7 linked regions of the Homo sapiens genome follow. The protein of the gene in region 5 purifies or fractionates together with the protein of the main gene of each other region. This does not show direct contact. Each region holds a gene or a part of one and is shown on either strand. Other genes may lie near its edges.

The links.
Region 1: the proteins of PCDHA9 (region 5) and ZNF622 purify together in Homo sapiens (affinity purification with mass spectrometry; one large-scale study listed by BioGRID and IntAct). This does not show direct contact.
Region 2: the proteins of PCDHA9 (region 5) and ECE1 purify together in Homo sapiens (affinity purification with mass spectrometry; one large-scale study listed by BioGRID and IntAct). This does not show direct contact.
Region 3: the proteins of PCDHA9 (region 5) and HBD purify together in Homo sapiens (affinity purification with mass spectrometry; one large-scale study listed by BioGRID and IntAct). This does not show direct contact.
Region 4: the proteins of PCDHA9 (region 5) and LONP2 purify together in Homo sapiens (affinity purification with mass spectrometry; 2 studies listed by BioGRID and IntAct, with this or other methods). This does not show direct contact.
Region 6: the proteins of PCDHA9 (region 5) and CD276 purify together in Homo sapiens (affinity purification with mass spectrometry; one large-scale study listed by BioGRID and IntAct). This does not show direct contact.
Region 7: the proteins of PCDHA9 (region 5) and DDR1 purify together in Homo sapiens (affinity purification with mass spectrometry; one large-scale study listed by BioGRID and IntAct). This does not show direct contact.

What each region holds. Positions count from the first base shown.
Region 1 is NC_000005.10:16,459,301-16,462,800, forward strand, and holds part of ZNF622 (cytoplasmic 60S subunit biogenesis factor ZNF622), read right to left. Parts: intron 1-3,500. UniProt on the Homo sapiens protein: Pre-60S-associated cytoplasmic factor involved in the cytoplasmic maturation of the 60S subunit.
Region 2 is NC_000001.11:21,234,964-21,238,463, forward strand, and holds part of ECE1 (endothelin-converting enzyme 1), read right to left. Parts: intron 3,282-3,500; coding exon 3,171-3,281; intron 1,882-3,170; coding exon 1,783-1,881; intron 965-1,782; coding exon 887-964; intron 1-886. UniProt on the Homo sapiens protein: Converts big endothelin-1 to endothelin-1.
Region 3 is NC_000011.10:5,232,338-5,235,673, forward strand, and holds HBD (hemoglobin subunit delta), read right to left. Parts: upstream 2,147-3,336; 5' UTR 2,097-2,146; coding exon 2,005-2,096; intron 1,877-2,004; coding exon 1,654-1,876; intron 756-1,653; coding exon 627-755; 3' UTR 501-626; downstream 1-500. UniProt on the Homo sapiens protein: Involved in oxygen transport from the lung to the various peripheral tissues.
Region 4 is NC_000016.10:48,271,800-48,275,299, reverse strand, and holds part of LONP2 (lon protease homolog 2, peroxisomal), read right to left. Parts: intron 1-3,500. UniProt on the Homo sapiens protein: ATP-dependent serine protease that mediates the selective degradation of misfolded and unassembled polypeptides in the peroxisomal matrix.
Region 5 is NC_000005.10:140,847,157-140,851,181, forward strand, and holds the start of PCDHA9 (protocadherin alpha-9 isoform 1 precursor), read left to right. Parts: upstream 1-1,225; 5' UTR 1,226-1,339; coding exon 1,340-3,733; coding exon of another isoform or gene 3,734-3,868; exon of another isoform or gene 3,869-4,025. UniProt on the Homo sapiens protein: Potential calcium-dependent cell-adhesion protein. May be involved in the establishment and maintenance of specific neuronal connections in the brain.
Region 6 is NC_000015.10:73,708,383-73,711,698, forward strand, and holds part of CD276 (CD276 antigen isoform a precursor), read left to right. Parts: coding exon 1-91; intron 92-1,265; coding exon 1,266-1,307; intron 1,308-2,752; coding exon 2,753-2,788; intron 2,789-3,316. UniProt on the Homo sapiens protein: May participate in the regulation of T-cell-mediated immune response. May play a protective role in tumor cells by inhibiting natural-killer mediated cell lysis as well as a role of marker for detection of neuroblastoma cells.
Region 7 is NC_000006.12:30,897,588-30,900,656, forward strand, and holds the end of DDR1 (epithelial discoidin domain-containing receptor 1 isoform 2 precursor), read left to right. Parts: coding exon 1-10; intron 11-485; coding exon 486-720; intron 721-1,300; coding exon 1,301-1,450; intron 1,451-1,568; coding exon 1,569-1,709; 3' UTR 1,710-2,569; downstream 2,570-3,069. UniProt on the Homo sapiens protein: Tyrosine kinase that functions as a cell surface receptor for fibrillar collagen and regulates cell attachment to the extracellular matrix, remodeling of the extracellular matrix, cell migration, differentiation, survival and cell proliferation.

The sequences.
Region 1 (3,500 bases), about 120 Mb from region 5:
ATGCTTGATCAGATACCTCACAAAAAGATATCCAAATGGCCAATGAATATGCAAAAAGCCTCTTGATTGCAGTAATCATCATCAGGGAGATGCAAATTAAAGCCACTACACACCCACCAAAGTTGCTAAGATGAAAAACTCTCCCTCACTACAAGTGGGAGTATAGAAAACCACTTTGGAAACCAATTTGACAGTATTTTCTAAAATGGAACATATGTATATCCTCTGGCCCAACTCCTACATATACACACAACAGATAACCTATAAACATTTGCCAAAGACACATTAGAATGATGTGGCAGCATTGTTTGTAATAGCCCCAAATTAGAAACCACTCAAATGTGTATCAACAGTAGACTAGATGTTGTGGAGCACTGAACAGAACACTCTGTAACAGTAAGAACTCTCCACAGCTATATAAAATAGTATGAATGGGTCTCCCAAACATAAAGTTGAGCAAAAGAAGCCACACCCAAGAGTACATTCTTTGTGATTCCATTTATATAAAGTATAAAAACAGGCAAAACCAATCTATGCAGCTATAAGTCAGAATAGTAGTTACTCTTGGAGAAAGGAGGGGTAGTTTCTGGAAGGACACACAAGGGAAATGTCAGGGTATTATTAACATGCTGTTTCTTGATCTAGGTGCTAGTTATATTTAAAATTTCACTACACTGAATCATGATATCACAAGTACGGTCATCCCTTGGTATCCATGGGGGATTGCTTCCAGGACCTCCCTAGGATACTAAAATTTGCAGATGTTCCAGTCCCTGATATAAAATGGTATAACATTTGCATATAACCTAAATCATTGCATACTTTAAATCATCTCTATATTACTTATTAATACCTAATACATTGTAAATGCTATGTAAATAGTTGTTACACAGTACTAAACGTTTAGGGAATAATGACAAGAAAAATAAGTCTGTGCATGTTCAGTATGGACAAAATTTTTTTCGAATACTTTAGTTTGGATGCACAGATGGAGAATCTATGACTACAGAGGGCCAGCTGTATACATATATGCACTTTTCTGTAAGTTTATTCTTCAATAAAAAGTTTCAGGTCCAAAATAAGTAAACAAGTTACCTTGTGAAGGGGAGTGAAATTTAGGTAATTTGTCATTTTTTAGCTGAGTGAATCCACATAAAATGCTTATTAGAACAGTGTCTGGCAGGTAAGCACTCCATAAACACTAGCTTTGTATGTAAAGGCTTTCTATTTTCCAAGTTTTCTTTATTAAGCATTATCAACTTTTTTTTTTTTCCTTTTTTTCCCCTAGAGACAGGGTCTCACTGTGTCACCTAGGCTGGCCTGAAACTCCTGGCCTCTGGTGATCCTCTTACCTCAGCCTCCTAAGCAGCTGGTACTACAGGCTCATGCCACCACACTTGGCTGACTTTTATTTTTTTAAGACAAACAAATCATTTAATATTCATTTTTAGGAAGAAAAGTTCATATAATTTCTCATTTCTAGGCACCAACAGAATAAAACTGTAAATGGAATGAAAAATACATCATCTGGACTAAGGGAGAACCGTTTCCATCAGTTACATATTTTAATTCAAACTAACGGTTTAAGCAACACCCAGTAAAGAACAAGAGTAACAACAACAAAAGGCTAGGGCTTGAAGCTTAGATTCTAGAAGGAGGAGACAATAAATAATATACAATACACACAATGGCAGTAGGGGATATAAGGAAAAATAAAACAGGATAAAAAGGATTGGGTAGGTGTTATTTTATGGAAGGTGGTCAAAAAAGGCCACACTGAGAAGGTGAAATTTATGTCAAGGCCTGCAAGAAGTGAGGGACAAGTCAAGTGAATATCTAAGCGAATACTATAAACAAATACAGCAGCAAATGCAAAGGTCTTGAGAAACACACTTGATGCATTAGAGGAATAGTTAGGAATCCAGAGAGCAACTAATACAAAACCACAGAACCACAGATGCTCCACACTATGTGCAGGGCCTTGCAGGCCATTATACTTTGGCTTTTACTTTGAGTAAGATAGGTAGTCTTTGAAAGAATCTGAGCAGAGTTTGACCTCACTTAATGTTTTAAAAGGATCCCCCTAGTTACAGTTTTGAGAATAGAACATAGTGGGTAGTAAGGATGTAAATATGGAGACCAGGCAGCAGGAGGCTACTGTAGGAAGTCAGGCGAAAGATGATGGTGCCCTGGACCTGGGTAGTAGCCATAGAAGTAGTGAGAAGCAGTCAGCCTCTGAAGATAGATAGTGCAAAAGCAGATAAAGCAGAATTTGGTGATCGATTCTAATGTAAGCATGAAAGAAAATAGAAGAATAAAGGAAGACTGCATGGCATTTGGCTTAAGTAACTAGAAGGACAGAGATGCCATTTACTTACAGAGAGCAGACTAGGATGCATAGCAGGAGTTGATTTTGGACAGGTTAAGTTAATGATTCCTTTTGGACACAAGTAGAAATATCAAGGAGGCAGCTGGATATCTTCAGTTTACAGCTGAGGGGAAGGCTATACTAGAGATATAAATGTGGGGGTCACGGGCCTACAGAAGATATTGAAATCTATGAGACTGGGTAGGATTCTGAATATAACCACAGGATGAGAGACTGAGTGCTGGGCATTCCAAGCCTACTGCTGATGGCAGCTGCTTAACTATCCATGGTATTTGCTTTGACCACTCTGATTACAACATCAGTCAAAAGGTCATAAACACTGCTGTCTAAAAGGAAACTTGAGAGGGATAAATACTGAAAGAGGATGCTTCCCACCACCAGCAGACATTCATTGTCTTCTCTACTGCCACAGCCTCTAATCCTCCCCTCTACCTCCACCCAGTCATGTCCACCAACTGCAAGTCTCCAGCTGCAAAATGAGAAATCAGGGAGAAAATGCAAAAGGAAGACTTAAAAGACTGAGACTTTTCTGAACATGGTATCACTTGGTCTATGCATGCCTGGCATGGTAATTATACACATCTGCTTATCTCCTGTGCTAGCTCACAGGAATTTTGACAACTAGTTGTTCACAAGTACTTAACATACATTTGCTAAATGACATACAAAAAAATTCAAGATTCTAGTTAGGGCCGGGCATGGTATCTCACACCTGTAATCCCAGCACTTTGGGAGACTGAGGTGGGTGGATCACTTGGGTCTAGGAGTTCAAGACCAGCCTGGGTAACATGGCGAAACCCCATCTCTACAAAAAGTACAAAAATTAGCAGGGCATATTGGTGCACACTAGCTGCTGGGGAGGCTGTGGTGGGAGGATCATCTGAGCTCAGGGAAGCTGAGGCTGCAGTAGGCCATGATTGTGCCACTGTCCTCCAGCCTGGGTGACAGCAAAAATCTTTCTCAGAGAAAAAAAAAGATTCTAGTTAGGGGTGAACCACCAATGGGGTAATCTCACCATCAGATGCCTGGTTTGGGCCTGGTTTAGCAACTGTCTCAACTCCTTCAGGAGACAGCTGGTGATGCAAGGACTCTCCAGGAACCCAATATGTGA
Region 2 (3,500 bases), on a different chromosome or scaffold from region 5:
AATGAGTCTTTATAGTCTTAGGTTCTAAATATAACCATGACGAGAGGTTATTAGATTTTTAAATGCCTGAATTCAGGCTGGGCATGGTGGCTCATGAATATGAGCCAGCCTGGGAGGCGGAGGTTGCAGTGAGCTGAGATAGCACCACTACACTCCAGTCTGGGCAACAGAATGAGACCCTGTCTCAAAAAAAATTTTTTCTTAAATACCTGAATTCAAGTATTTCAATCACAAGAAGATATAAAACTTCATAATTTGAGGCAGAAGCACAATCCACCTAACTGAGTGATTTGCCAAAAGTTCTAATAAGCAGGGATGTATCAACCACCTCCATTGCCCAAACCAAGCTTAAAAATGCACCTGGATTTAAGCTGCTTCTTTCCCATTAGCATTTCAAAGTCAAAATCAGAGGTCCGGGTTTCTGGGGAGGTGGAGGAGGGCCGCAGGGACAGGAGGTAACTGGAAGCACGACCAGGGAGGGAGGAGGTGGTGTGGGGGTTTTCCCACTTCATACCCCACCCCTGATGTCTGAGGGCCACCAATTCTCTCTGCACCTTCTGGGGTCTGTTTCCTCCATTATTTCCCACATATTAAATGGAGCTGACCACTTCCAGGGGGCACACAGCACGGGTTCTGTACTGACTGGTGGGCACTGCTGATGGATGGTGGCTATGGGGAGGCAGGGCCTCCAGCTGACCCAGGAGCCAAATTAAGAAGAAGAAGAGGCTTCCTCATGCCTGACCCATACCCAAGCCCCACACCACATCATCCCTGTGTGTTTTGACAACCATGCTGCCTCTAGCACCCCATCTGGACCCAGCCCTGCCTCGGCCCTTTTCTAAGGGGGCATTTAGGAACGCAAGGGGGCAGGGCAGCAGCTACTCACGTCATTAAACACTTTGTCCAGCTCCTTGGGATCCATGATGAAGTTGGGGTATCCTATCATGTTGTAGATGGCATCGGCCTGGACAGGACAGACAGAGGAAGTGAGTGCCCGGCAACATCGACCAGGCCAGCCTGAGCAACTTGGGTGCTGGGCTCATAGTCTGGGCCAAGGGGAACCAGAGCCAGGCCCTGCCTGCCTTGGGCTTTCATGTCTTTTTCTGGAAAGGTTTCCCCCTTGCAAAACTTCTACTTATCCCTTAGGTCTCTGTTTAAATGTCACTTTCCCAAGGGAAGTCTTCCCTGACTCCCATCCCACTGGAGGGTGCCAGAGCCTTCCCGACCCACGGGACGTGCTGCGTTTTCCTGCACCTTTTCCCCGTACACTCAGCGAGGTTTGTCTTCTACAGACATCCAAGCAATCATGTGCTTGAGGCCTACCCCGAATCCTGCTAGGCCTAGACCGCTCACCCGCTGAAGGCGAGACAGCATCCAGGCTGTGCTGCCGGACAGAACTGGCCTCACCGGGCGCGGTGGCTTATGCCTATAATGCCAGCGCTTTGGCAGGCCAAGGCGGGTCGATCACCTGAGGTCGGGAGTTTGAGACCAACCTGACCCACATGGAGAAACCCCATCTCTACTAAAAATACAAAATTAACCGAGCGTGGTGGCGCACGCCTGTAATCCCAGCTGCTCGGGAGGCTGAGGTGGGAGAATCGCTTGAACCCGGGAGGCGGAGGTTGCGGTGAGCCAAGATCGCACCATAGCACTCCAGCCTGGGTAACAAGAACGAAACTCTGCCTCAAAAAACAAACAAAAAAACCGGCCTCTCCTTCCCCCACCCTCCTCTATCTGTGCTGGACGCCGCAGCACCCCCTCCAAGTGCCTGGCCAGCCTCACCTTTTCCTTGGCTGATTTTCGGGTTTCCTCATCCATCCACTTCAGGGTGCTCAGGCTTTCCTCAAATGCCTTCTTAATCTCCAGGATGATCTCGGTGGCCTGAGGAGATACACATCACAGCAGTAAGGTCTGCGCACTGGTCTCAGGTAAATGCAACAGGCACCCCGTGCAGAACAATGATGGCCAGAGATTAAACTCAATTTTCCAAGCGTCAGGCTGGGTGAGAAGGGGAGCCACAGCTGTGCTTCCAAACCACGCTCCTAACGTGAACACCCTGCAAGACAGGACTGGCCTTCCACACACAGGGCTCCATGCTCCAATAAGCTTAGGATGAGCTTCGGGAAAGTTGGAAAAGTCTCTGCTGTGGTACTTTTCAGAGCCTTTAATATGGTAATAATAGGCACCGTGATTCTTCCAGAGAGGGGAGAAGACACAGCCTCTCCCAGCCTTATTGCCTTATTGGACCACAGCATTCCTTTTTGATGGAGCGGGCTTTAAGATCTAGAGTACTCATGTTCCGAGGAGCAGCTTCGGAAATACCATGCTCAGGCTGGATATAGACAGGTGTTCTTGAGGGAGACAATGTCATGAGCAGACAAGCTCGAAGATGGAAAGTTGAAGGTTCTAGAGAAGGGGAAGGCAGAGCTGTGCGGCAACAAGAGCAGAGGGGCCAGCAGACCCCAACTCAGACCCTGCCCAGCTGCTCACAGGCCAGTCACTGTAATGGATTTGAATTGCGGTTGGCTCACCTCCGGCTGCAGATGACAGCTACATAATGAATACTATTTGTCATCAAGATTGTAACAATAAAATGACCACTCCCATTAGCTGAACCCTTATTGTATGCCGGTGCCCAGTGTGTGGCATCTCATTTAATCTCTCTCTGTGGGAGGAATGCCCCCGTCTCCACATTGCAGATGATGTAAGAACTGTCCCAGGCCACCCGACCAGCGGTGAGGCCAGGATCTGAGCTTAGGCCGGGCTGTCTCCAAGGCGCTCTGCCATGGCACTCCTCTGCCTGTCTAGAACAAACCTGTCACCCACAAAATAAGAAAAATGTCACCCTCTGGGCCAGAGCTGTTCTGCCAACATTCTCTCTGGGTCGTTCACAGCCCTTGGAGGTGGGGATGGCTGTCACAGCCTTGCAGGCTGCTGGGAGGATCACATGAGCTCGTGCAGATAAGGGCCTGGCACTGAAGAGCTGCCCTCGTGAGACTCCCATTACCCAGGGCTCGAGGAAGTGAAGCCTCTGCATTGAGGCTGTGGCCCTAAGGTCCCCTGCCCAGGAGCAGGAAAGGCCCAGGGTGGGCTGGAGTGTGAACTGGCAGGTCTGTGCAGGCCACAACAAGTGTGACCTCACAGCCTGTGTCCACGGGGAAGGCACTTACTATGCTCTTGCTGTCCTCGGCGAAGGTTGCTTTGACAAACATGGGGCCCAACGCAAAGCCCAGGTTGTTTTCTGTGTCACTCACGCAAAACTTCCAGCGAGGAAGACAGGTCTGGAAAACACAAGTCAGGGGGCTCGCTGGGCCCCAGCCCTTTGTTTCCCAACCCCTTTCTTGCTGGGAGGTAGCACCATGTGGGGCCCATGCTTTGTTCTGGAAGTTCAGGGAGAGCTTTCCGACCCAGTAAAGTTATTTTAGTCACCGGACCAAGAGGCCACTGATACCCTCACTCCCACCCCCTGCCATTTCCTGAATGCCAGGCTCTGTGCTGGG
Region 3 (3,336 bases), on a different chromosome or scaffold from region 5:
ATCTTGACTGAAATATGGGAAGATAAGAGGAAATTCTTTACAGAGATGTTCTGGGGCAAGTAAGAGGAGGAAGCTATTTCTTGGAGCAGGAACACTTGATGGGGTATAGTATTATGGGCTACAATGTGCAGGCAAAGGAAGGAGGAAGAAAGACAACATAACATTGTCTTGAGTAATCATTATGCCTTTAATTGAGCACATTATTTTCTCAGTAATTGTTGGAGTTTAATCGTAGCATTACCCTTGAGGCTATGTCTTAGGGTTGAGGTCTTCCCTAGAACCTCTGCAGTGCCAGTATTATCTTTGTATCAAGAGTTCTTGATAATTTCTGCTCTTTGGAGGTAGAAGTGTCACCCATTAATGCCTTGTACGGTTCCCTTGCTTTTCTCTTTTCCCATGTACTCTTTGTAAAATAAACAAGTGCTCCCTATCTGTAGAGCCTCAGGAACCTTCTTACACACCTGGACAAAAAAATGAAATAAGTGAAATTAATCAGGAAGTTGAGCTGAACATTCTTTATTAGGCAGAAGCCATACCCTTGAAGTAGGCATTGTGTTCCCAAGTTCAGAAAATAGAATCTAGGGAAATAGGGTCTTCTTATGGTTATCAGGAAACAGTCCAGGATCTCAATGGTACTTGTGAGCCAGGGCATTAGCCACACCAGCCACCACCTTCTGATAGGCAGCCTGCATTTGTGGGGTGAATTCCTTGCCAAAGTTGCGGGCCAGCACACACACCAGCACATTGCCCAAGAGCTGCGGAGAAGAGGTAGGCAGATACATGCATATGGTTAACAGAGAAATAAAGACTGGCTTCTGAGAAACTGAGCCAACACCCATTTTTTTCTGCCCAAATCTTAGACAAAACTGATCCCCAGGTTATTCCCATCAGCATAAATAAGTACATATATGAATGCATACATATAACATATATCTATACACACACATCCTCTATGTACTTAACTAGCATGTAGTCTATATATGTACATATATGCTATATATGCTGTATAATACTATATACAAATTAATTCCAAATTAGTTTTAATTTTGTATGTGTATATAGCATATACAAATTAATTACTATAAACAGATTAATAGATACAAATTAATTGATTAATCAGTGTGATGATGGGCTGTCTCCTAGCAACGACTTCTGCCCCACCTCCAGTGTAACTGCCTAGTCTTTCATAATCAAATATTCACTTTCCTTTCCATTCCATTTACTACAGAATTTATAAAATTCCAATTATTCCTTATTGTAAAATGATTTATAGCCTCTAAAACAGTATTCTATGCCTCTCATCTTTGAGTTGGAGCCTCTCCCATACCCATGTGGAGAGACAAAAGGATTATTCTAAGTGCAGAATTAGCAGGTGAGAGCTGGTATGCATAATTTGAGTTGTTGTTAGAGAAGGAAAAATGAAGGGAGGGGGTTGGGAGAGAAAGACAGGATATTAAATAATTTAAAATAGCAAGATTGTGAGGAAGGAAAAAATGCAGAATATTTAAATAAAAAATTAACAAAATTTTAGAAGCATTAAATGATAAAATATAGTAAAATGACAAAAATGTGGGAGAAGAGCAGGTAGGTAAAAGAACCAAAATGTAAGATTAGAAAGTAAAAAGAGAAAAGTGAAGCATCTCCTGGACTCACCCTGAAGTTCTCAGGATCCACGTGCAGCTTGTCACAGTGCAGCTCACTCAGCTGAGAAAAAGTGCCCTTGAGGTTGTCCAGGTGAGCCAGGCCATCACTAAAGGCACCTAGCACCTTCTTGCCATGAGCCTTCACCTTAGGGTTGCCCATAACAGCATCAGGAGAGGACAGATCCCCAAAGGACTCAAAGAACCTCTGGGTCCAAGGGTAGACCACCAGTAATCTGAGGGTAGGAAAACAGCCCAAGGGACAGAGAGTCAGTGCCTATCAGAAACCCAAGAGTCTTCTCTGTCTACACATGCCCAGTTTCCATTTGCCTCCTTGAGCCTCTCTTATAACCTTGATACCAACCTGCCCAGGGCCTCACCACCAACTGCATCCACGTTCACTTTGCCCCACAGGGCATTGACAGCAGTCTTCTCCTCAGGAGTCAGATGCACCATGGTGTCTGTTTGAGGTTGCTAGTGAACACTGTTATGTCAGAAGAAAGTGTAAGCAACAGTCGACTCTGCCCTGCCTTTTATGCTGGTCCTGTCCTCCCTGCTCCAGTGAGCAGGTTGGTTTAAGATAAGCAGGGTTTCATTAGTTTGTGAGAATGAAAAATGAACCTTCATTCCACTATTCCCTTAACTTGCCCTGAGATTGGCTGTTCTGTCATGTGTGTCTTGACTCAGAAACCCTGTTCTCCTCTACATATCTCCCCACCGCATCTCTTTCAGCAGTTGTTTCTAAAAATATCCTCCTAGTTTCATTTTTGCAGAAGTGTTTTAGGCTAATATAGTGGAATGTATCTTAGAGTTTAACTTATTTGTTTCTGTCACTTTATACTAAGAAAACTTATCTAAAAGCAGATGTTTTAACAAGTTGACTCAATATAAAGTTCTTCTTTGCCTCTAGAGATTTTTGTCTCCAAGGGAATTTTGAGAGGTTGGAATGGACAAATCTATTGCTGCAGTTTAAACTTGCTTGCTTCCTCCTTCTTTTGGTAAATTCTTCCTATAATAAAACTCTAATTTTTTATTATATTGAAATAAATATCCATTAAAAGAATATTTAAAAAATGAATAGTGTTTATTTACCAGTTATTGAAATAGGTTCTGGAAACATGAATTTTAAGGTTAACATTTTAATGACAGATAAAATCAAATATTATATACAAATATTTTGAATGTTTAAAATTATGGTATGACTAAAGAAAGAATGCAAAGTGAAAAGTAGATTTACCATATTCAGCCAGATTAAATTTAACGAAGTTCCTGGGAATATGCTAGTACAGAACATTTTTACAGATGTGTTCTTAAAAAAAAATGTGGAATTAGACCCAGGAATGAAGATCCCAGTAGTTTTTCACTCTTTTCTGAATTCAAATAATGCCACAATGGCAGACAAATACACACCCATGAGCATATCCAAAAGGAAGGATTGAAGGAAAGAGGAGGAAGAAATGGAGAAAGGAAGGAAGGAAGAGGGGAAGAGAGAGGATGGAAGGGATGGAGGAGAAGAAGGAAAAATAAATAATGGAGAGGAGAGGAGAAAAAAGGAGGGGAGAGGAGAGGAGAAGGGATAGGGAAGAGAAAGAGAAAGGGAAGGGAAGAGAGGAAAGAAGAGAAGAGGAGAGAAAAGAAACGAAGAGAGGGGAAGGGAAGGAAAAAAAAGAGGAAAAAAGAGACAAGAGAAGAGATA
Region 4 (3,500 bases), on a different chromosome or scaffold from region 5:
TCTGAATACTATTTTGGGCAAATTACTTGACCTAAGCCTCAGTTTCCTCACCTATAAGATGGGGAAAATAGTGTCAACCTGGTGGGTTATATTAATATAAGGATCATGAGAGAACACAGGCAAAGCACACAGCACGGTCCCTGGCACACAGTGAGCTTTCCAGTGATGCTCATCATTATTAGCAACAGCTACTTAAAGTTTACTTCTGGTTTCCTGGAAAAAGCACAAGAGCAGAATTCAGTACACCTGAATTTGAGTCCCATTTCAATTTCTGCCTCATGGAAGCAACTTTTGCAAATGTCTTTTATAGCAGACAAGAGAGAAAAATATAGGCATTTCACCATCCACTCTTCCTACCTATTCAATTAAAGGGCTCGGCTCCCGCAGGCTATAATGCAAACTGTTAAAATAAAATTTACAAAGAATTTGGAATAGAAAAGAGTTTAAGTGTTACAATGTTAAGTGAAAATGACAGGATTACAATTCTGTTACTTAAAATCCAATGATAAGTCTGGCAGAACAAAACAAATGTTAACAGTGATTATCTTTGTACGGTAGAAAAACATGAGGATTTTTTCCCCTTATTTTTCACATTTTCTACCAAGGGTGTGTGGATGTGTGGGTGTGGGTGTGGGTGGGTGTGTGGGTGTGTGTGTGTATCTCAAACTGGAAAAAGGAATCAGTTTAAAAAAGATCCTAATGATCTCAAAAAGAAAAACAGTCTTTAAGAAACTGGGATTTTAATGTATAATAGCATGTCTAAACAAATGCAATTATTCTTCTGGTAGTCATTCCTAAATCTTTTTATAGACTAATTTGTATGGGTGTACTCGTCTAAAGGGTTGCATAACTTCCAAAATATTATGTTTTAATCTTACATGAATTCACAAAACACCCAGAGAGCGCTCACCACATTTAGCACCATGTTAAATAAGCATCATGGGGTACATAAAGGAGATAGACGATAAATCCCCTGCCTGAGAAAGCTTGTACTTTTTATAAACGTATTTATGTTTCATCTCCACAGTTGTATGGTAGAAATGCCAGAGGCCCGTATTCGATAAAGGAGCACAATAGGTGGTCAGTTTAGAGAAGAGTGAAATCATAACTGACTGCACTTACATTAATGGAGGAAGCCTTGGGTTGAGGCCTTAAAATAAACCTAAGTTTTGGAGAGGCAAAGAAGAGCTACATGCAAATGTAAGTTGAAAGGATAGTGGGCAAACCATAATATATCTGGTACACTATGCTAAAAAAATACATTAGAAGCTTGCTGCTTCAGTTATTTTTCCCTTGTAGAAACTAATAATGAAATAGTTTATTTATAACTTTACCATTTCAGGTTGCATATGAAAATGTATCAATGTGGAAATCACAAGTTCATTTTTCTTCTCATCTTGTTTGAAAGTTGAGACAAGGATTTCTTGCAATAATATAATTTTATTATCTAAGTAAACAGCTGGTAAAGTATTTCTAGGAGTTAATATCCACAGTGATTTAAGATATATCATAACAATAATATATTATTTCTTTTTACCAAAGAACAAATGAAAAACAATTATGCAAACATTATTTCATAAAACTTCATCTTAAAAGAAGTTAGTTACCTTATATTTGTGTGAATTGACTTAAATTATTTAAATGTAATACTTAAATATAAAAATTTAAGTTGTTAAAACTGATAGAAGGGAATGAGTATTTTGTGGCTTACAAAGTGGACAGAAAAATCACAATGGAGATAAATCCAAATGAGAAATATCGAAAAGACTGAAAAACTGAATGAGTTAATACGTAGCATAAACATTATTCTTCCTTTAAGCTACTCAAAACAATACAGACAAAAATGAGGCAATGTTTAGTCAGATCACTATTATTTTCCAAGTTTAAGATTAAATATTAAGGCAAGCCTCTCTTTTGCTTCCCCATCTCCCACCTCATTATCATTTAACCATAAAAAACATATCTTTGCTTGTTTTTAAAATCAATCCCCAACTTATCGGCATCCTTCTTCTCATACGCAGGTACTTTTAGCAAAAGGAAAGTGTTCCACACATGGGAAAACAGGGAGAGTGAGTGGCAAAATCGAGAGGATAAGCAAGGACAATAACAAAGCAGCTTTCTTTTTCCCTGGCTTTCTTTTTCCTTGGCTATTCTAAGGCTGCGGAACAGTGGTGCCTACTCAAAGGCTGAGGAAAAACAAAACTTTTCATGAACTCTAACTGTGAGCATGTGACCGGTACTCAAACGTCAAGACCTGGGTTGTCTCCCAAATGCCTCAACTGTCACATGGAACCACATGTTCCCCCAGGCACACCCATGGTTGTGCTGGAATTGTCGGTTGTTCTTTCTCTCCTCCTCCTATTCACCTTCAATTCATAACTGACCTAAGTGCATGCTCTGCCCTCACCCTTTCCTCAACAACTGAACCCCACTACTCTCCACGTGCTTCCAAACAGGGTTTGAAATAAAATTTTTCACCAGGCTTTAATAATTCACGGGGTAGATGGGTAATATGTCCCCAACAGCACAAGGGCAGGTTGCTATAGTAGTTAATCAAACATCTGGTACACTGATGGCTAAGTAACACTTACCAGCAAGGTGTATCTAAAATCAGGCTGAATAGAATGATTCACAAAACAAATCCTTATACTTTTTACTCGGCAACAATCACAGCCTCCATATATACGTTTCTAAAAAGGTTATATTTACAAATATTTTAGGCAATGGTGATTGTAACACAACCTCCTTTTACAAAAGACCCATAAAGTCAATTCTTATTTTCTTCAGACTCAATTTTCTTAATACAGTCACATACACAAAAGCATATTCACTTGAAAAAAAGAACAAATTTTATATGTCAGTAAGGATTTAAAATAGAGATTTATTTTAATCCAGTGATGTTTGTAAGTGGTGAGAACCATGACACTATACACTGTCCATTAGTAGGCAACAGAAAAATGCATTTTCCCATAATTCTGCCGTATAAATTAAGTAATAATGCTGAGAATAGGATAAATATTTTAGAAGGCAATTAAAAAATCAGATTGAAATTTATAAAAACTCATACTGAAGCTTGTAAATCTAAATTTGTCCTCCTGAGAATTTATTAATAGAATTTAAATAATGGTTAAAGCTAATTTTTAGTGAATGCTCACTGTGTGTCAGGTATTGAATAAGTGCTTTCCAAGCCTTATCAAATAATCAATACCAATGTGAAAAGAAATAAGAACAAATTACCTACATGTCACGTGCTTATGATGTCAATTTCACATAGCATTAATTCCACGAACTCACTCTCTAAATGCCATCAAATACTTACTCTGTAGCTAAAATTAGAAGATTTAGGCCCTAGACGCAGCTTCTTTGAGTTTGGTCCAAGAGAAATGCCAATTCCTTTACGAAAGCAAACTATAGCCTCTAGTGGTACATGCAAGAATAAGAAGTCTAGGCAACAAAAATATCTTTTGAAATTGCCAGAAGAAATCACCCAAATCAATTCT
Region 5 (4,025 bases):
TGAGTAATAAACTAAAGGGCCATGAGTGATTAAGGAATTTGGCCACTCTTTAGAATTAATTGGGAGCTATTTAACTACCTTGAGCAAAATAAATCACGACTTTTGAAAGAAGGTTGAACGGGAAGACAAACTCAGAAGCTCCTGCAGTAATCAAGGACAGAAGCAATTGTTAAATGCACCTCTTAGGCTGTTATCAGTAGAAATACGAAATAAAAGATAAATATGCAAAAACATTAATGGCACAATAAACACTCACGGTTTTGCCTTTAGACTTGAGATACACTAAAATCTAGATTTAATTAATCGACTTGGACGTTGGAATAAGATAGTAAAACTCACAACAAAACTTTGTAGAACTTAGTCAGGAAAAGAATCTCAAGCATAGCTTTAAAAACAGAAATTGCCCCGAGTACTAAGGATGAGCAATAATGAAATTAAAACATATTGTAATAACATTACACAAACTATATTGGAGACTACAAAGAAGAGATTATTCATAGATTATAAAGCTTGGAAAGAATCAAAACAACACATTTCTGGAAACAGATTGTATAAATGCTACAAAAGAGAAAAATATATTTTCTCCCCACGCAACACAAGACCTTAAAGTCAATTCTCGCTTTTCTTGCAATATTTTATACCTTTTCAATTCATAGAATTACTCAAGAAAACTACCTCAGTTGGTTGCTACTTTTTGTTGATTCCTTTTACCAGACATGACTAAGTTTCTTTTTCATCAGTAGATTTCTGGGCTCCTATATTCACTAGAGATTGCAACTCCTGGATTTCTCTTACACTAGAATCCTATTTCGAGCCATATGGGAGATTCTGAATTCCAGAACAAAAGAATTTTGTAATTTAAAATTCGTGATTGCTCAATGGAATCATTTTAATTGTTACTTCATTTCTGTCGTTATTTAAAACTTAAGTGGAGAGTTTTCTCAGGGATAAGAAAACCACAATCAAGGTCATACAAAACTTTTAGAGGCAGTCAGTCTGCTAAGAAGGCTCCAGCAAGAGAAACGGGATCTTCTGTTTCAACAATCATTACTTAAGAAAAAATTAAGAAAATGAAATAAGTTTTGCAGAATAACTGTGAAATTTTTATTCATGAAATATGTACTTACACTTTGGGCCACGTGATGTCACTCTTTGCCGCGATGTTCTCTCTGAATCCAGACAAATACAGCCCTTTTCCCATGGGAAAGAGGCTCAATTCTTTTTCACTCTCTCTGTGCTGAACGATGGCGAACACAGCAGAATGGGACTGACGAAATCAGATGATTTCTTCTAATTTGGAGGCAATTTTCACTAATTAGAAGAAGACTGAGTATTTGAAATGTTATACTCAAGTCGAGGAGATCCAGAGGGTCAGCCTCTACTGCTCTCGCTTCTGATCCTCGCAATGTGGGTGGTGGGGAGCGGCCAGCTCCACTACTCCGTCCCGGAGGAAGCCGAACACGGCACCTTCGTGGGCCGCATCGCGCAGGACCTGGGGCTGGAGCTGGCGGAGCTGGTGCCGCGCCTGTTCCAGTTGGATTCCAAAGGCCGCGGGGACCTTCTGGAGGTAAATCTGCAGAATGGCATTTTGTTTGTGAATTCTCGGATCGACCGCGAGGAGCTGTGCGGGCGGAGCGCGGAGTGCAGCATCCACCTGGAGGTGATCGTAGACAGGCCGCTGCAGGTTTTCCATGTGGACGTGGAGGTGAAGGACATTAACGACAACCCTCCAGTGTTCCCAGCGACACAAAAGAATCTGTTCATCGCGGAATCCAGGCCGCTTGACTCTCGGTTTCCACTAGAGGGCGCGTCCGATGCAGATATCGGGGAGAACGCCCTGCTCACTTACAGACTGAGCCCCAATGAGTATTTCTTCCTGGACGTGCCAACCAGCAACCAGCAGGTAAAACCTCTTGGACTTGTATTACGGAAACTTTTAGACAGAGAAGAAACTCCGGAGCTTCATTTATTGCTCACGGCCACCGATGGAGGCAAACCCGAGCTGACTGGCACCGTTCAATTACTCATCACGGTACTGGACAACAATGACAATGCCCCAGTGTTCGACAGAACCCTGTATACGGTGAAATTACCAGAAAACGTTTCTATCGGAACGCTGGTGATTCACCCCAATGCCTCAGATTTAGACGAAGGCTTGAATGGGGATATTATTTACTCCTTCTCCAGTGATGTTTCTCCAGATATAAAATCCAAGTTCCACATGGACCCCTTAAGTGGGGCAATCACAGTGATAGGACATATGGATTTTGAAGAAAGTAGAGCACACAAGATCCCAGTCGAGGCTGTCGATAAAGGCTTCCCACCCCTGGCTGGTCATTGTACACTTCTTGTGGAAGTTGTGGATGTAAATGACAATGCTCCACAGTTGACTATCAAAACGCTCTCGGTTCCTGTAAAAGAGGACGCACAACTGGGGACAGTTATTGCCCTGATTAGTGTGATCGACCTAGACGCAGATGCCAACGGGCAGGTTACCTGCTCCCTGACGCCCCACGTCCCCTTCAAGCTGGTGTCCACCTACAAGAATTACTACTCGTTGGTGCTGGACAGAGCTCTGGACCGCGAGAGTGTGTCCGCCTACGAGCTGGTGGTTACCGCGCGGGACGGGGGCTCGCCTTCACTGTGGGCCACGGCCAGGGTGTCTGTGGAGGTGGCCGACGTGAACGACAACGCACCAGCGTTCGCGCAGTCCGAGTACACGGTGTTCGTGAAGGAGAACAACCCGCCGGGCTGCCACATCTTCACGGTGTCTGCGCGGGACGCTGACGCGCAGGAGAACGCCCTGGTGTCCTACTCGCTGGTGGAGCGGCGGTTGGGCGAGCGCTCGCTGTCGAGCTACGTGTCAGTGCACGCGGAGAGCGGCAAGGTGTACGCGCTGCAGCCGTTGGACCACGAGGAGCTGGAGCTGCTACAGTTCCAGGTGAGCGCGCGCGACGCGGGCGTGCCGCCTCTGGGCAGCAACGTGACGCTGCAGGTGTTCGTGCTGGACGAGAACGACAATGCGCCGGCGCTGCTGACACCTCGGATGAGGGGCACTGACGGCGCAGTGAGCGAGATGGTGCTGCGGTCGGTGGGCGCCGGCGTAGTGGTGGGGAAGGTGCGCGCAGTGGACGCCGACTCGGGCTACAACGCGTGGCTTTCATACGAGCTGCAGCCAGAAACGGCCAGCGCGAGCATCCCGTTCCGCGTGGGGCTGTACACGGGCGAGATCAGCACAACGCGTGCCCTGGACGAAACGGACGCACCGCGCCAGCGCCTACTGGTGCTGGTGAAAGACCACGGGGAGCCAGCGCTGACGGCCACGGCCACTGTGCTGGTGTCGCTGGTGGAGAGCGGCCAGGCGCCAAAGTCATCGTCGCGGGCGTCAGTGGGTGCCACGGGCCCCGAGGTGACGCTGGTGGATGTCAACGTGTACCTGATCATCGCCATCTGCGCGGTGTCTAGCCTGTTGGTTCTCACGCTGCTGCTGTACACTGTGCTGCGGTGCTCGGCGATGCCCACCGAGGGCGAGTGCGCGCCTGGCAAGCCGACGCTGGTGTGTTCTAGCGCGGTGGGGAGTTGGTCGTACTCGCAGCAGAGGAGGCAGAGGGTGTGCTCTGGCGAGGGTAAGCAGAAGACCGACCTCATGGCCTTCAGCCCGGGCCTTTCTCCTTGTGCTGGATCTACAGAGCGAACGGGAGAACCCTCTGCTTCCTCAGATTCAACTGGGAAGGTGGGTTTTTCTAGCATTTTATTTATTTATATAATTTTTTTTCTTGAAAGATATTATCGATTACTCCCAGGGGCCGTTCAAATAGTTTTATTCATTTTTCTAGAAATCCAGCAGATTTTTTTTCTGATAAAGTAAACCCCTTAACATTGGAGCCGACTTTGTCTTGACTTCTAGTGAGAATTATAAACTGTATATTAAATAGATATTTTTTGGGTGCTGAATCAATTTTATTTAAATTTGTGATTAAAGTGACATTGAATTTCTGATGCTATGCTGCCATAACACTTGAAAA
Region 6 (3,316 bases), on a different chromosome or scaffold from region 5:
GGGCTGTCTGTCTGTCTCATTGCACTGCTGGTGGCCCTGGCTTTCGTGTGCTGGAGAAAGATCAAACAGAGCTGTGAGGAGGAGAATGCAGGTGAGTGTGTGTGTATGTGTGTGCGTGCGCATGCACACTTATGTGTCTTGGGGTATGTTGCTGTCTTTGATGTCAATAGAGTGTCACTTTCTAGTGACAGAACGAGTGTGTGTGTGCAGATGGGGCTGGATTTGTCTGTGTGTGACCTTGAGTCTACGTCTTGTGTGTGTGAACAAGCGTGAGCCTGTCTGTCCATGTGCAGATACCACAGGATGAATGTGGATGAGTGTGACTGGAAGGTGGTGGGAGTGTAAGGCCAAGTGCTACAAAGGGATGAGTGTGTGCCAACAAGTGTGCCTGTGAAAGTGTAAGTCAGTCACGTGTGTGTGAGAGAGCAGGCCAGAGCATGGAAGCTGTGCGGCACAAATGTAGGCATGCCAGGGGCGTGCATGGCACTGGGGGTGATCGTGCCTGCCTTGGAGTGAGTTTGAAGCAGCTGCCATTTGCGGGGCTGAGGGTCAGCCCGAGCTGGCATTGGTGACTGGTAAGTGGGTGAGAGGACATTGGTGGGTGGTGAGTTGACCCTGGTGGGTAAACAGATGCATGAGAGTAGATGGGTAGTCAGAGGCTGGGGATGGCTGGAGGTTGGGAAGGAGAGGGAAGAAGAGTGGTCAGTTGGCAGATAGGTGAGTACTTGTGAGGTAGACAGGTGGAAGGATGAGCAGGTAGACGGCTGGTTGGTTACATCTGTTGGAGGTTGATGGTTGGCAGGGCTACTGAGCGAGCGGATGGGTGAGGTGATGGGTGGGTGGGCTGGTGGAGGGTAGGTGGATGGTCTTTGGCTGGGTGTGTGGCGGGGGCTCCAGGTTGAGTGGATGGTCTTTGGCTGGGTGAGTGGTGGGCTCCAGGCTGGGTGGATGGTCCTTGACTGGGTAAGTGGTGCACTCCAGGCTGGGTGGATGGTCTTTGGCTGGGTGAGTGGTGGGGGCGCCAGGCTGGGTAGTTTTTGGCTGGGTGAGTGGTGGGCTCCAGGCTGGGAGCCCCTTCATGTTGTCACAGGCTCGGCTCTGCTGTGCTCTGCTCTCGGGCTCTAACCCGTGTCTAGCATTTGGTCCGCAGGTCAGGCCCACTCAGGCCCTGTTCACCAGCTTCCTGCACTCTCAGGTGGGAAAGTGCTGGCATGAAAATGGGCTTGCAAAAGATTTTTGTTTATTCTGAGTTCTTGCCTTTGCAGGAGCTGAGGACCAGGATGGGGAGGGAGAAGGCTCCAAGACAGGTGAGTCTGAACTTGGAGCTGGCCCTCTTGGCTGGGAGAGGGACATATGGGAAAGGAGAGAGGACTCTAGGATCTGGAGGGGCCAGATTTGCTGTAAGGTTTGAATGAAATGTGTTCTGTGGACTCAGACCTCCCCACCCCGGTGAGTCTGCTCTTTGCCCAGAGTTAGGCAGGAAGTGGATCACCCAGTTCCCTCCCAGGTGTGGCTTCATTTCTCCTGCCAACCTTTACCCATCTGCCAGGGCCGATTCCACCTGATTGGCCCCACACCGTGGAGTCTGGTGGCTTCCTAGGGGTGGGAGCAGGGGCTCCGGAGATAGGGAGTCTGGGTTTAAGTTCCTGCTCCATCTCAGGTAAACAGAGTGGCCTTGAGCAAGATGCTTTGCCTCTCTGGCTTCGGTTTCCTCTTATGTAAAATGAGGATAATCACAGATTCATAGGTTGTTTGAATTATTAATTGAGATAATGTATATAAAGGACCTAGTATCATATCTAGTGCCAAGTGCTTAATACTCTGGAGTCCTATTACTATTAGGCAAACAGCTTAAGACAATACTGTTCTAGTTACAGACTGTGTAGCTTTGGGCAAGGTGCCTTGCTCCTCTGGGCATCAGTTTCCCATCTGTAAAATGTCATCCTGACCCTGCCCTGATGGCACCAGAGGGCTGTTTTGAAGCTCTTTCAGGTGACTGGAGAGGGAGGTACTTGCAAAGGACATAGGAGCATGGCACAGTAAGCTGGGGGCCCAGCTTGGGTGGGTGCCAAGGCACTGGTGCCCATGGCCGACTCCCAGGGGATCCTGGGCTGGGAGAGGCAGGTTTCCGCTGAGCCATTTGGGATGGTTCCAGTTAATGCCAGTTCCCTCCCCACCCCCGCAGAAGGAAGGGCAGGAGATTGACACTTGGGGACTGCTATAAATTATGCCAATTAATTCTTTGCCTGTTGGTGCCCAGCGTGGCAGGCGTAGAGACAGCTCTGGGATCAGACCTCATTCTTCATGCTCAGAGGCAGATGTAGTTGGCAGAAGGGAGGGAGTGAGGAGAAGAGTGTGGGTGATGGAGTTGGTCAGTCTCATTCCACATGGTCCCAGGCCCACCTGCAAATCTGCCAGCCTCCTTTAGCTTCTCACATCACCCTGTGTGTACATTGGGCTCAGGGCACTTCCGCATCTCCAGCTGGAGGTGGAGGGCTCGAGGGTTGTCCCATTCTATAGATGCAGAAAACTAAGGCCCAGAGAGGAGAATGACAAGCCACAGAGTGGAACTGGGACCTGGGACTGGGGCTTGGGACAGCAACCTAGGGCCCCTTCCCTTGTGCTATGAAGTGGTCCCACTCTGCTGACTTGTCCCGCCCCTTCCAGCCCTCACTCCTCCCTCTGCCTGACTCCCTACCCCACCACTTCCCATGGTTCCTCCCTCACCGTGTGCGCCTTCCTTTTTTTACAGCCCTGCAGCCTCTGAAACACTCTGACAGCAAAGAAGGTAAAGACACCTGGGCTTGAGGTTGTGTCTGTGTATGCACACATCTGTGTGTGAGAGGCTGAGAGGGTGGGTAGGCATCATCCTTTCACTAGTGACCTGAGGCCCCCTCTGCAGAAGAGCAGCCTCAACTTCCCCCTGGTGAGATGGCAGAGGGCTGAGTAACCAAGGTCCCAGCTGCTCTGATGGGACCCAAATACGACAGAGGCTTAAGCAGGACAGGAGTTTATTCCTCCTTCCTGTGATAGTGTGAGCATAGGTAATCGTAAAACCACTGATGACCTGGAGCCAGGTTCCACTTACCTGGATTCTGCCCTCTTCAACTTCAAGCTTTCACTCCTAGGTCTAAGAGGCTGTTTGTGCTCCCACGCCCCCTCCAGAGCCAAGAGGGAGAGAAAGGAAGGATATGTTTCCTTCTAGAGCTTGAGTGGAAGTAGCCTGCATCACTTCCGCTTACATTCCATTGGTCAGAACCCAGGCATATGAGCCCTAACTCAGGGGAGGCTAGAAAAGTGTTCAGCTGGGTAGCCA
Region 7 (3,069 bases), on a different chromosome or scaffold from region 5:
CCACCATCAGGTACCTGCTTACCCAGGCTGGGCCTTGCTCAGAATTCCCCCAGGGGATCTCCTCCTCTCCCCTCGCTTCAGCCTGGAGGAAAAGAGGGGAGCGTGGGGGTGGGAAGGGAGAGAGGTTCCAGGAGGGCCTGGGATAAGGAATGTGTGACAAGTTAACCCAGGAACATGGACAGAAAGGCTGGAGGTGACTATGCAAGAGTGGTGAAGGGACTTGGGCCCTGCCATGACGTCCCTTCTGCTTTCTCTCACCCTCACTCCCCTCTGAGTCCAGATTGGGGAGCACAATAAAAGAAGAGCCCCCTAGTGTTGGCCAGGCCTGGGAGATTGAGAGGGAAGTGACCCTTGGCCTCACGTGGGCATTCCACCTCCACATGGGGAGCCAGAGTGACCGGGCCCGGGGAGTGGGCTCTCTCTCCTCTCCTGGATGGGAATCTGCGAAGCTGCCCCCAGTGACCTTCTGTCGGTTCCCTTCTCAGCTACCCAATGCTGCTGCATGTGGCAGCCCAGATCGCCTCCGGCATGCGCTATCTGGCCACACTCAACTTTGTACATCGGGACCTGGCCACGCGGAACTGCCTAGTTGGGGAAAATTTCACCATCAAAATCGCAGACTTTGGCATGAGCCGGAACCTCTATGCTGGGGACTATTACCGTGTGCAGGGCCGGGCAGTGCTGCCCATCCGCTGGATGGCCTGGGAGTGCATCCTCATGGTGAGCAGCCCGAGGACAGCCAGGTTGGAGCAGGGCAGGTGGGAGAACACTGGCCGCCACTCACAGCCCTGGTCTCCATCAGTCACACACTTTCTCTGGGTTGCATTTTACAGAATCTCATCTATAATATGAGGTTCTCCTAGCCCAAGGGACTGGGGAAAGCAGGAGCTGCAGTGTGATGGGCAAGAATCCAGGAGCCAAGAGTGGGTACTGGGGATGGAGACAGGGTGGCAGAGAGCTCAAGAGATGAGGTTGGGCGAGGAAGCTGGAGATAGAAGGGGTTGGGTAGGGAGACCGAAGGTCAGGACCAGAAAGTGGGGGTGGATGGAGAGGAAGGAGGAGCAGAAGGAAGAGGTGGGCCAGGGCCCTGGAGAGAGGACCAGAGCATGGAGAGGAAAGGCAGAGCCCAAGGGAGAGGAGTTGGAAAAGGTGGCCAGCGGAGGAGAGTGGAGAGCCTGGCGTCAGGAGGGATCAGGCCTGAGTGGAGCCCAGAGTGGATCTGGGGCTTCCAATAGGAAGGGAGGAGGGTCTACGTTGCCTGATGTCCCTGTCTGTTTTTGCTGCCTTCTCTGCATCCCAGGGGAAGTTCACGACTGCGAGTGACGTGTGGGCCTTTGGTGTGACCCTGTGGGAGGTGCTGATGCTCTGTAGGGCCCAGCCCTTTGGGCAGCTCACCGACGAGCAGGTCATCGAGAACGCGGGGGAGTTCTTCCGGGACCAGGGCCGGCAGGTCAGAGTGGAGGAGAGGGAAGATGGGTCCGAGGCGGGGGACAGAAGGGGCAGAGTTGTCATCTTGGAGACTAAAGAATATTTGTTCCCTGACTCTCATCCACACTGCCACAATGCAGGTGTACCTGTCCCGGCCGCCTGCCTGCCCGCAGGGCCTATATGAGCTGATGCTTCGGTGCTGGAGCCGGGAGTCTGAGCAGCGACCACCCTTTTCCCAGCTGCATCGGTTCCTGGCAGAGGATGCACTCAACACGGTGTGAATCACACATCCAGCTGCCCCTCCCTCAGGGAGCGATCCAGGGGAAGCCAGTGACACTAAAACAAGAGGACACAATGGCACCTCTGCCCTTCCCCTCCCGACAGCCCATCACCTCTAATAGAGGCAGTGAGACTGCAGGTGGGCTGGGCCCACCCAGGGAGCTGATGCCCCTTCTCCCCTTCCTGGACACACTCTCATGTCCCCTTCCTGTTCTTCCTTCCTAGAAGCCCCTGTCGCCCACCCAGCTGGTCCTGTGGATGGGATCCTCTCCACCCTCCTCTAGCCATCCCTTGGGGAAGGGTGGGGAGAAATATAGGATAGACACTGGACATGGCCCATTGGAGCACCTGGGCCCCACTGGACAACACTGATTCCTGGAGAGGTGGCTGCGCCCCCAGCTTCTCTCTCCCTGTCACACACTGGACCCCACTGGCTGAGAATCTGGGGGTGAGGAGGACAAGAAGGAGAGGAAAATGTTTCCTTGTGCCTGCTCCTGTACTTGTCCTCAGCTTGGGCTTCTTCCTCCTCCATCACCTGAAACACTGGACCTGGGGGTAGCCCCGCCCCAGCCCTCAGTCACCCCCACTTCCCACTTGCAGTCTTGTAGCTAGAACTTCTCTAAGCCTATACGTTTCTGTGGAGTAAATATTGGGATTGGGGGGAAAGAGGGAGCAACGGCCCATAGCCTTGGGGTTGGACATCTCTAGTGTAGCTGCCACATTGATTTTTCTATAATCACTTGGGGTTTGTACATTTTTGGGGGGAGAGACACAGATTTTTACACTAATATATGGACCTAGCTTGAGGCAATTTTAATCCCCTGCACTAGGCAGGTAATAATAAAGGTTGAGTTTTCCACAACTGTGTGAGTGGGTTCCTTGGGAATTTGGTAACTCTGCCTCCTGCACCTCCCTCTGAACCCACTTCCCAACCCACTTCCCATCTTCCTTTTTTCCTGCCTCCTCATTCCATTTCCCATCACCTGTTTTGCCCAGCATTGTGTTCTGTTTCTGGATAATCCAGGCCTTTGCCTGTGGGACCTCAGGAGATGCATGAATGTCTGAGTGCATGAACCTTCTCAACTCAGAGGGGTGCTCTGGTGGAGGCCTGGAAGGAATGCAGTCAGGCCAGGGGTGCTGAACCTTTTTTGTGCCATAAACGCCTTTGGCAGTCTGTAGAGGTCTACTGAGTCCTCCTCAGAATTAGGTTTTAAAACCTATAAAATGGACCAGGCATAGTGGCTCACCCCTGTAATCCCAGCACTTTGGGAGGCTGAGGTGGGTAGATCACTTGAGGCCAGGAGTTCGAGACCAACCTGGCCAACATAGCAAAACCCCATCTCTACTAAAGATACAAAAATT